Linked DNA regions of Homo sapiens: region 2 is linked to region 1. The links come from fine-mapping of genetic effects on gene expression. A gene starts in region 1. The other region holds a variant in brackets. All regions are shown on one strand. Distances are between the middles of the regions. Region 1 holds the start of LRWD1 (leucine rich repeats and WD repeat domain containing 1). Region 2 overlaps SPDYE6 (speedy/RINGO cell cycle regulator family member E6).

Region 1 (4,259 bases):
AGGTAAAAAAGAAACACCCCAGAAAAAGCTACTTAGAAGAGTCAGGCCGGGTGTGGTGACTCATACCTGTAATCCCGACACTTTGGGAGGCCAAGGCGGGCAGATCACCTAAGGCCAGGAGTTTGAGGCCAGCCTGGCCAACATGGTGAAACCCTGTCTCTACTAAAAATACAAAAAAAATTAGCTGGGCATGGTGGCAGGTGCTTGTAATCCTAGTTACTCGGGAGGCTGAGGCAGGAAAATCACTTGAACCTGGGAGGCAGAGGTTGCAATGAGCCAAGATCGCATCACTGCACTCCAGCCTGGGCGACGGAGTGAGACTCCATCTCAAAAAATAAATAAATAAATAAAGTAGCACATCAGGCTAGGGGCTGTTGGGGCAAAGAGCCTCTATCAGTCACCCTCCTCAACATCCTCCTGATGTCCAATTCTATCATTCTCCCAATGCCCCCACAGCTCCTAAGCACACAATAATCCTCTCATCCCCTTACCCTGCTGGTCAGCTCCCGATTCAGGTTCTCCACCTGAGAGTAAGTTGAGGACGCATCCTTGCCATTGACCTTACGGAGCGTGGGCAGGAGAAAGGAGACTTTCAGGTTGTCATTGACCTGGGGAAGAGAGGGTGAAGAGCAGTGGCTCAGGAGATGCTGAGCCTGAGCCCAACAGAGTCCTGGCCCCAGGTATGAAGCTGGTGGGAGGCTCCCACTTACCGTCAGGAAGGGGTTGCCCTCCAGGCTGAGTTCCTCGAGCTTGGGGAACTGGCACAAGGCAGTAACATCCCCCAGCTGGTTGTTGGCGCAGCGGAGGACACGCAGGTGGGACAGGCCCAGGTTGTCCGGCAGCGTCTCCAGGTGGTTGTTAGACAGGTCAAGCTCCTGCAGCTGCGTCAGGCGGCACAGGAGTTTGGGGTCCAGGTGCTCGGAAAGCAGCTCCAATCCTGACAGGCTGGAGTTGGGGGCAGAAGGCTTAGGGGGCGGGCAGGCTTTGCACCCTACACCAATCTGCCCCGGGTACCTCAGAAGGCTTTTTCACCTGACATTTCTCGTACAAGTGTAGCCGCCCCGCCCATCCCCCCGTTACTTTATTTTTAGAGACGGGGTGTCACTCAGTCGCCTAGGCGCGATCATAGCTCACAGCTGCCTCCAACTCCTGGGCTGAGGGATCCTCCCGCCTCAGCCTCTCGAGTAGCTGGGACTAGAAGCGCGCGCCACTACTCCCGACTCCACACCACTTAACAAAAAAAAAAAAAAAAAAAAAAAAAAAAAAAAAAAAGCTGCAACTACTTTAGGACTCGGGGGCATCCTAGCCCCCTCTAGGATGCTCTTCCTGATCCTTCGGGGGCTCGTCTGTGCTTCCCAGGCCCTCTAACGATAGCGGCAGGCTGTGCCCCTAACTGTCCGGGCTCCCTTCAGGGGATGAGGCCCCTCGGGGCTCCCGGCGAGCGGGTGGGGCCACGATCTCCCAACAAGAAGACATTTGGACCACTCTGCCGAACCCAGAGGGCGATAACGGGGACAAGCGGGCCGTTGGGGAGGGTCCCCGCTCTTCTCCCCGACCGCCCGGCCCCGAGGACACAGCCTCACCCGCTGCCCGGCTCTTACTCCAGACTCCGGATCTTCCCCAGCCGGTCGCTCTTGGGGCGCCCGCGCTGCATTAGCAGCCGCGCCGAGAGGGGGCCCATGGCGAGGAGGCGCAGCCCGCGCTGACCCAGTCGGCCACCCCGGCGTGTGGCGTCGCCCTGCGTCTCCTGGAGCCCGGCACTGGCGTCCGCGGTAACTGAGCCCAGGAGGCGGCGCCGCGCGAGCCCGTGGGCGTTAACGACCGGAAGGAAGCGGAACCCAGGCCTCGTGCCCCCGCCCGGCGCGGACTACAACTCCCAGCGGCCCCCACGGCCGCGCCTGCGCACTGGCCACGCGGACGGCGCGATGGCGGCGGCTGCCGCCGAGACCCCCGAAGTCCTTCGGGAATGCGGTTGCAAGGGCATCCGGACCTGTCTGATCTGCGAGCGGCAGCGCGGCAGTGACCCGCCCTGGGAGCTGCCCCCAGCGGTAAGGGGTGGGAGAGGGGCCGCGCCCACAAACGTCGCTCTGCATCTGGGGAAACTGAGGTCCAGCTTGGCCATGATAGGGGCCGGGATCGAAGCCTGTGAGGGACCCTTACGGTAGGGGTGATGCAGGGTGAGGAGATGAGGGCTTTAAGGAGCGGGCTTGGGAGTGGGGAAGGAGCTGGAACGTGGGTGGGTTCGATTACAGGTCACCTCGGGGACTCTGGGGGGATCTGCCTGTAAACCTCGACGTAGCCTCTCGGGTCTGGCGCTGGGAGCTTCACGGGCCTGCAGGGAGATGACACGGAAAGGGTCGATCGAGGGTGCTGAATACCAGTCCAACGGTGCCTGAAGGCCGTGGACTGCAATGGGCAAGGAGACAGTGAATTCCAGTTAACTAACGAAAAGGAACTCAAGGATCGCTGCAACCCAGGAGCTGGAGGCTGCAGTGAGCTATGATCGAGCCACCTCACTTCAGCCTGGGCGACAGAGCGAGACTCTGTCTCACAAAAAGAAAATAAATAAAAAAAGAAAAAGAACTCAGCGCCTTTGGGCTGGCATGGAAGGACTGTGGTTGGTTGCAAGGGCATTCCAACCCAGAAAACTGCGTGGGGTAGGAAGGTGGATTGGTGATGCCTCAGGTGAGAGAGATGAGGCTGGAGAGGTTGTGGGGGGGGGGAGGTCTGATCACAGATGCTCCCCGGTGCATCAGCTGAGCAGGCTGGACTTGTCCCAAAGGCCCTGGAGAGCTCTTGAAGGGTTTTAAAGGAGTGATGAAGTCAAATGTGAATTTTAGAAAGATCCTGGGAAGGGAACGGGCAGATATGAAGGTGTGGAGGCTGGTAAGCCAGTGAAGACTGCCCCAACGTCCATGGTAAAAGTGCCCAAGGTCCTATGGAAACAGCATGGCATGCCTCATGAATTAAACATAGAATTACCCATGATCCGCAATCCTGCTTCTGGGTATATATCCAAAGGAACTAAAAGCAGGGTCTGGAAGAGATATTTGCACACCCATGTTCATATTCACGACATTATTCATGACAGCCCAAAGATGGAAGCAAACCAAGCATCTATCAAGATACCTGGGCCGGGTTCAGTGGCTCACGCCTGTAATCCCAGCACTTTGGGAGGCTGAGGTGGGCAGATCACCTGAGGTCAGGAGTTTGAGACCTGCCTGGCTAACATGGCGAAACCCTGCCTCTACTAAAATTACAAAAACTTGCCGGGCTTGGTGAGGCACATCTGTAATCCCAGCTACTCGGGAGGCTGAGGCAGGAGAATCGCTTGAACCCAGGAGGCAGAGGTTGCAGTGAGCCAAGATCGCACCACTGCACTCCAGCTCAGGTGACAGAGCAAGACTCCTTCTCAAAAAAAAAAAAAAAAAAAAAAAAAGAGATGACTTGATCCACAAAATGTGGTGCATACACATAGTAGAATACTATTCAGCCTTAAAAAGGAAGGACAGGCCGGGCACAGTGGCTCACACCTGTAATTCCAGCACTTTGGGAGACCGAGGCAGGCAGATTGCCAGAGCCCAGGAGTTTGAGACCAGCATGGGCAACATGGTGAAATCCCACCTCTACAAAAAAATTAACCATACATGGTGACACGTACCTGTAGTCCCAGCTACCCAGGAGGCTGAGGTGGGAGGGTTGCTTGAGCCTGGGAGGTCAAGGCTGCAGTGAGCTGTGATCACGCCACTGCACTCCAGCTTGGGCAACATAGTGAGACCCTGTCTCAAAAAAAAAAAAAAAAAAAAGGACATTTTGACATATGTTACAGCATGGACGAACCTTGGGGACACGATGCTAAGTTAAGGAAGCAGTCACAGAAGACAAATACTGCATGATTCCTGTTGTGTGAGCTACGTAGGGTAGTCACAGGGACAGAAAGTAGAAGGGTTGTTGCCAAGGGCTCAGGAAGGGGAGATGGGGACCTGTTGTTTAATAGGGAAAGAGTTTCAGTTTTGCAAGATGAAAAAGTTCTGAATGGTGGTGACGGCTGTACAACAATATGAATGAACTTAAGAGTTTTAATTTGTGGAAGGGGCCAGGTGCGGTGGCTCATGCCTATAATCCCAGCCCTTTGGGAGGCTGAGGCAGGAGGCTCGCCTGAGTCTAGGAGTTTGAGACCAGCTTGGACAACATAGCAAGACCCTGTCTCTACAAAAAATTTAAAAATTAGCTAGGTGTGGTGGTGTGTGCTTGTAGTC
Region 2 (4,512 bases), 120 kb after region 1:
AATGAACTTTTCTCACCTTCACAGCAATTGTGATCATATTGGTCTGGATTGATTATTTGCTGCCCAGTGATATTTTTCCTTAATGGGGTTGTGGTTATTTGAACATATTTATTAGCTCTGGAAGATAATCCTGTGCTGTTTTTTATGTAGAAAAAAACATAAGGCTGGGTGCAGTGCTCACACCTACAATCCCTGCGGTTTTGGAGGTCATGGTGGGAGGATCACCTGAGGCCAGGAGTTTGAGGCCAGCCTCAGCAACATAGCATCTACATCTATTTTTAATTTTTATTTTTTAAAGAAAAACAATAGAAGAGAAGGCTGATCCCAAGCTACAGGGTTTTTTTGTTTGTTTGTTTGTTTTGGAGACAGAGTCTTGCTCTGTCTCCCAGGCTGGAGTGCAGTGGCACAACCTCGGCTCCCTGCAACTTTCACCTCTGGGTTCAAACAAATTCTCCTGCCTCAGCCTCCCAAGTAGCTGGGACTACAGGCACCCGTCTGTACGTCCGACTAACTTTTGTAAAAATAGTAGAGACAAGGTTTCACCATGTTGGCCAGGCTGGTCTCGAACTCCTGACTTCAAGTGATCCACCTACCTCGGCCTCCCAAAGTGCTGGGATTACAGGCATGAGCTACTGCGCCCAGATGCCAAGCTAGAGTTTTAAGGCAGGAAATGAGAGAAAGATATTGAGAGAGGAAAACCAGGTGGTAAGAAAACTCTAAAGGTGGCCGGGCGTGGTGGCTCACGCCCATGATCCCAGCAGGAGTTTGAGACCAGCCTGGCCAACATGGTGAAACCCTGTCTCTACTAAAAATACAAAAATTAGGCAGGCGTGGTGGTGCACGCCTATAATCCCAGCTATTTGGGAGGCTGAGGCAGGAGAATCACTAGCAGAGATTGTGTCTCCTCACACCCTCTCAAAAAAAAAAAAAAAAAAAAAGTTCGTTCCTGCAGCAGTTAAAGCTGTGAAAGACAGGCACTCTGACATGCAATTCTTTGTGATTTTTCTTTTTCCTTTTTGGAGTTGGGGTCTTGCGCTGTCACCCAGACTGGGGTGCAGTGGTGTGGTCATAGCTCACTGCGGCCTCAGACTCAAGCTCAAGCGATCTTCTTACCTTGCCTTTCAAATTGCTGGGATTATAAGCATGAGCCACTGCATCTGGCCTGAGACACAATTCTGTTTTTGGTCTTTTTTTTTTTGGGGGGGGGATGGAGTCTCGCTCTGTCACCCAGGCTGGAGTGCGGTGGCGTGATCTTGGCTCAATGCAAGCTCCGCCTCCTGGGTTCACGCCATTCTCCTGCCTCAGCCTCCCAAGTAGCTGGGACTACAGGCGCCCGCCACCATGCCTGGCTAATTTTTTGTATTTTTAGTAGAGACGGGATTTCACTGTCTTAGCCAGGATGGTCTCGATCTCCTGACCTCGTGATCTGCCCGCCTTGGCCTCCCAAAGTGCTAGGATTACAGGTGTGAGCCACCGCGCCCAGCCTATGTGATGCAATTCTGATGTCAACTCCCTGATGTTACCTCAAATGCCACAGGTTAAGGCCACCAGCCCCTACTAGGCTGCCCTCGCTTTAGACACACCTGCAGGCTTGGGTGTCCTCAGACCACATGTACTTCTCACCAACTGGCTGCAAATTTGGAGGTTCCCACCATGCCCTCAAGTTCGATAACTCACTAAAACAATTCACAGAATGCAGAAAAGCATGATACTTTCTTTCTCTTTTTTTTTTTTTTTTTTTTTTCGAGACAGAGTCTTGCTCTGTCGCCCAGGCTGGAGTACAGTGGCCACCATGCTTGGCTAATTTTTGTATTTGTATTAGAGACGGGGTTTCGCCATGTTGGCCAGGCTGGTCTTGAACTCCTGACCTCAGGTGATCCACCCGCCTTGGCATCCCAAAATGCTGGGATTATAGGCATAGCCACCATGCCCGGTTGACTTCTAGAGTTTCAATAACAGAGAAGTGATTCAAGAAGGGAGACATGTTTTGTAGATGGCAGGAGCTTCATGAAAAGAAGCCAATGAAGGGCAGGACGTGTAGCTGTCTACCTACAGGAAACCAGCCAGGAGCCTCCCCACAGGGACTTCAGCACAGATGGCCGGGAAAATCTGCATTCACCTGAGCTCTGGACCTAAGAGAGGACAAGGCCTTGACCATTTCTACAGACTCACAAGATGCAATCTCTGTGGTCCATGCCCGTGGTGTGATCTGGGAAGCAGGGGGCCTTCTAAATGCCAACAACAAGGAAATCAAATGTGCAACAAACAGAAATAACGGCATTGACGTGGGCCATGGAAAGGCCTAAACAGATGACTGCAGTTCACTGCCAAGGTCATCAAAGGGGTGACTCTGAAATAATAAATTTCAGACGCCACGGCCCAAATAGCTGCACGAGGTGGGGAAGTCCTCCACATGCCTCTGCTTCCTTCGGTACCTGTTTATGAAATCAGCCGAGGTACTTCCCTGGGGAATTTCCTTTCTCTTTCTTTCTTTCGAGACGGAGTCTTGCTCTGTCGCCCAGGCTAGAGTGCAGTGGTGCAATCTCAGCTCAATATAACCTCCCCCTCCTGGGTTTTAGCAATTCT[C/T]CTGCATCAGACTTCTGAGTAGCTGAGATTACAGGTGCATGCCACCATGCCCAGCTAATATTTGTATTTTTAGTAGAGACAGGGTTTCACCATCTAGGCCAGGCTGGTCTTGAACTCCTGACCTCGTGATCCACCCGTCTTGGCCTCTCAAAGTGCTGGGATTACAGGTGTGAGCCATCACGCCCGGACTTTTTTTTTTATTTTTTGAGACGACGTTTCACTCTTGTTGCCCACGCTGGAGTGCAATGGCACGATCTCAGCTCACTGCCACCTCCTCCTCCCAGGTTCAAGCGATTATCCTGCCTCAGCCTCTCGAGTAGCTGGGATTACAGGCACCCAACACCAAACCCAGCTAACTTATTGTATTTTTAGTAGAGATGGGATGTCACCATGTTGGCCAGGATGGTCTTGAACCCCTGACCTCTAATGATCCACCTGAATTGGTTTCCCAAAATGTTGGGATTACAGGCACAAGCCACTGCGCCCAGCCCCTCCCACACCTCTTTTGGCCAAGGCAGCACAATTCAGAAGAATCTTGCCAGGGAAGACTGGTAAATGGACGTCAACGTGATGCCTATGGCTCCTGGTGGATTTAGATACCTCCTGGTGCTTATTGATATCTTTACTACCAGTTGCATGGGGGCTTTTCCATGCCAGACTGAAAACGCAGGAGATCAATGATCAACCTTCAACTATTTACTAGCAGAACACTGAGGGGACTGTGCAGTCACCAATACCTCCTATTGCACTTGGATAAACACCTCCCAGGAAATAGAGATGAATAGAAAGGACATAGTCAAACAAGCAGAATGGCTGCATTCCTTCAACCAGAAGGGTCCATTAGTCTGTTTTCACACTGCTATAAAGAACTATGAGAAACTGGGTAATTTATGAAGAAAAGAGGTTTAATTGACTCACAGTTCTGCAGGCTGTACAGGAAGCGTGGCTGGGGAGGCCTCAGGAAACTGACAATCACGGCAGAAGGCGAAGGGGAAGCAGGCACGTCTGGCCATGTTGGAGCAGGAGAGACAGAGAGAGTGAAGTGGGAGGGCTGCACGCTTTTAAACAACCAGATCCCACAAGCGCTCACTCAATATCACGAGAACAGCAAGGGGGAAGTCGGCCCCCATGAGCCAATCACCTCCCACCAGGTCCCTCCCACAACACTGGGAATTACAATTTGACATGAGATTTGGGTGTGGATACAGAGCTGAACCATGTCAAGGGTAGTTCAACCGCTGAGATTGATTGATTGATTGATTGACTGAGATGGAGTCCTGCTCTGTTACCTAGGCTGGAGTGCAGTGGCACAATCTCGGCTCACTGCAACCTCCGCCTCCCGGGTTCAAGCGATTCTCCTGCCTCAGCCTCCCGAGTAGCTGGGACTACAGCACATGCCACCATGCCTAGCTAATTTTTGTATTTTTAGTAGAGACAGGGCTTCACCATGTTTGCCAGGCTGGTCTTGAACTCCTGACCTCGTGATCACCCTGCCTCGGCTTTTCTTTTGCTGGAATTACAGGTGTGAGCCACCGCACCCAGCCAACAACTGAGATTTAGAAGGCAGTCGAGTCCACTATACCGCACCTCACCTGGTTTCTTCCTCTGTTGGGGCCCCTCGTGGCCACTGTTCTGTTACTTTTTGGTCCTATTTATTTAAATGGATGGTGAGCTGTTTGTTCTCCAGGATCCAACACTTCCACCTTCAGCTTGTATTACAACAATACCAGCCTTTCAAGCTACTCCGGGTGACCCCAGAACTCATTTGAACTCAGAAGCCCAGGAGTTTCATTCCTTTCACTTTAGGGGACTCAGTGCCCTGCTCAGCATGAAGTCGAAGCAGAAGCATGACCTCCATCCCTAATCCCTCAAGAATGAGGAGTGGAAGGTGTTGGCAGAAGGGTGGGGGTGAGGTTTGTAGATCTG

What was found. PIP is the estimated chance that this variant, and not a neighbour inherited with it, causes the effect.
Region 2: its variant is the best candidate, but not a certain one, in a credible set for the expression of LRWD1 in whole blood (INTERVAL, PIP 0.59).

Annotation. Positions count from the first base shown.
Region 1 is chr7:102,462,503-102,466,761 of GRCh38, reverse strand. It overlaps LRWD1 (leucine rich repeats and WD repeat domain containing 1), which reads right to left and starts at 1,778. Exons shown (of 15, transcript NM_152892.3): 1 at 1,602-1,778; 2 at 711-945; 3 at 492-608. The coding sequence starts at 1,681. It overlaps ALKBH4 (alkB homolog 4, lysine demethylase), which reads left to right and starts at 1,899. Exons shown (of 3, transcript NM_017621.4): 1 at 1,899-2,048. The coding sequence starts at 1,926. It overlaps MIR5090 (microRNA 5090), which reads right to left and starts at 1,020; the gene lies at 936-1,020. RefSeq lists enhancers at 325-850, 1,128-1,227, 851-1,377, 1,507-2,156 and a silencer at 1,568-1,997.
Region 2 is chr7:102,341,261-102,345,772 of GRCh38, reverse strand. It overlaps SPDYE6 (speedy/RINGO cell cycle regulator family member E6), which reads left to right. Exons shown (of 8, transcript NM_001146210.4): 8 at 1-27. Among named protein-coding and RNA genes, the nearest start is that of SPDYE6, 13 kb to the left of the region's middle. The variant C/T (reference allele first, on the strand shown) is at 2,587.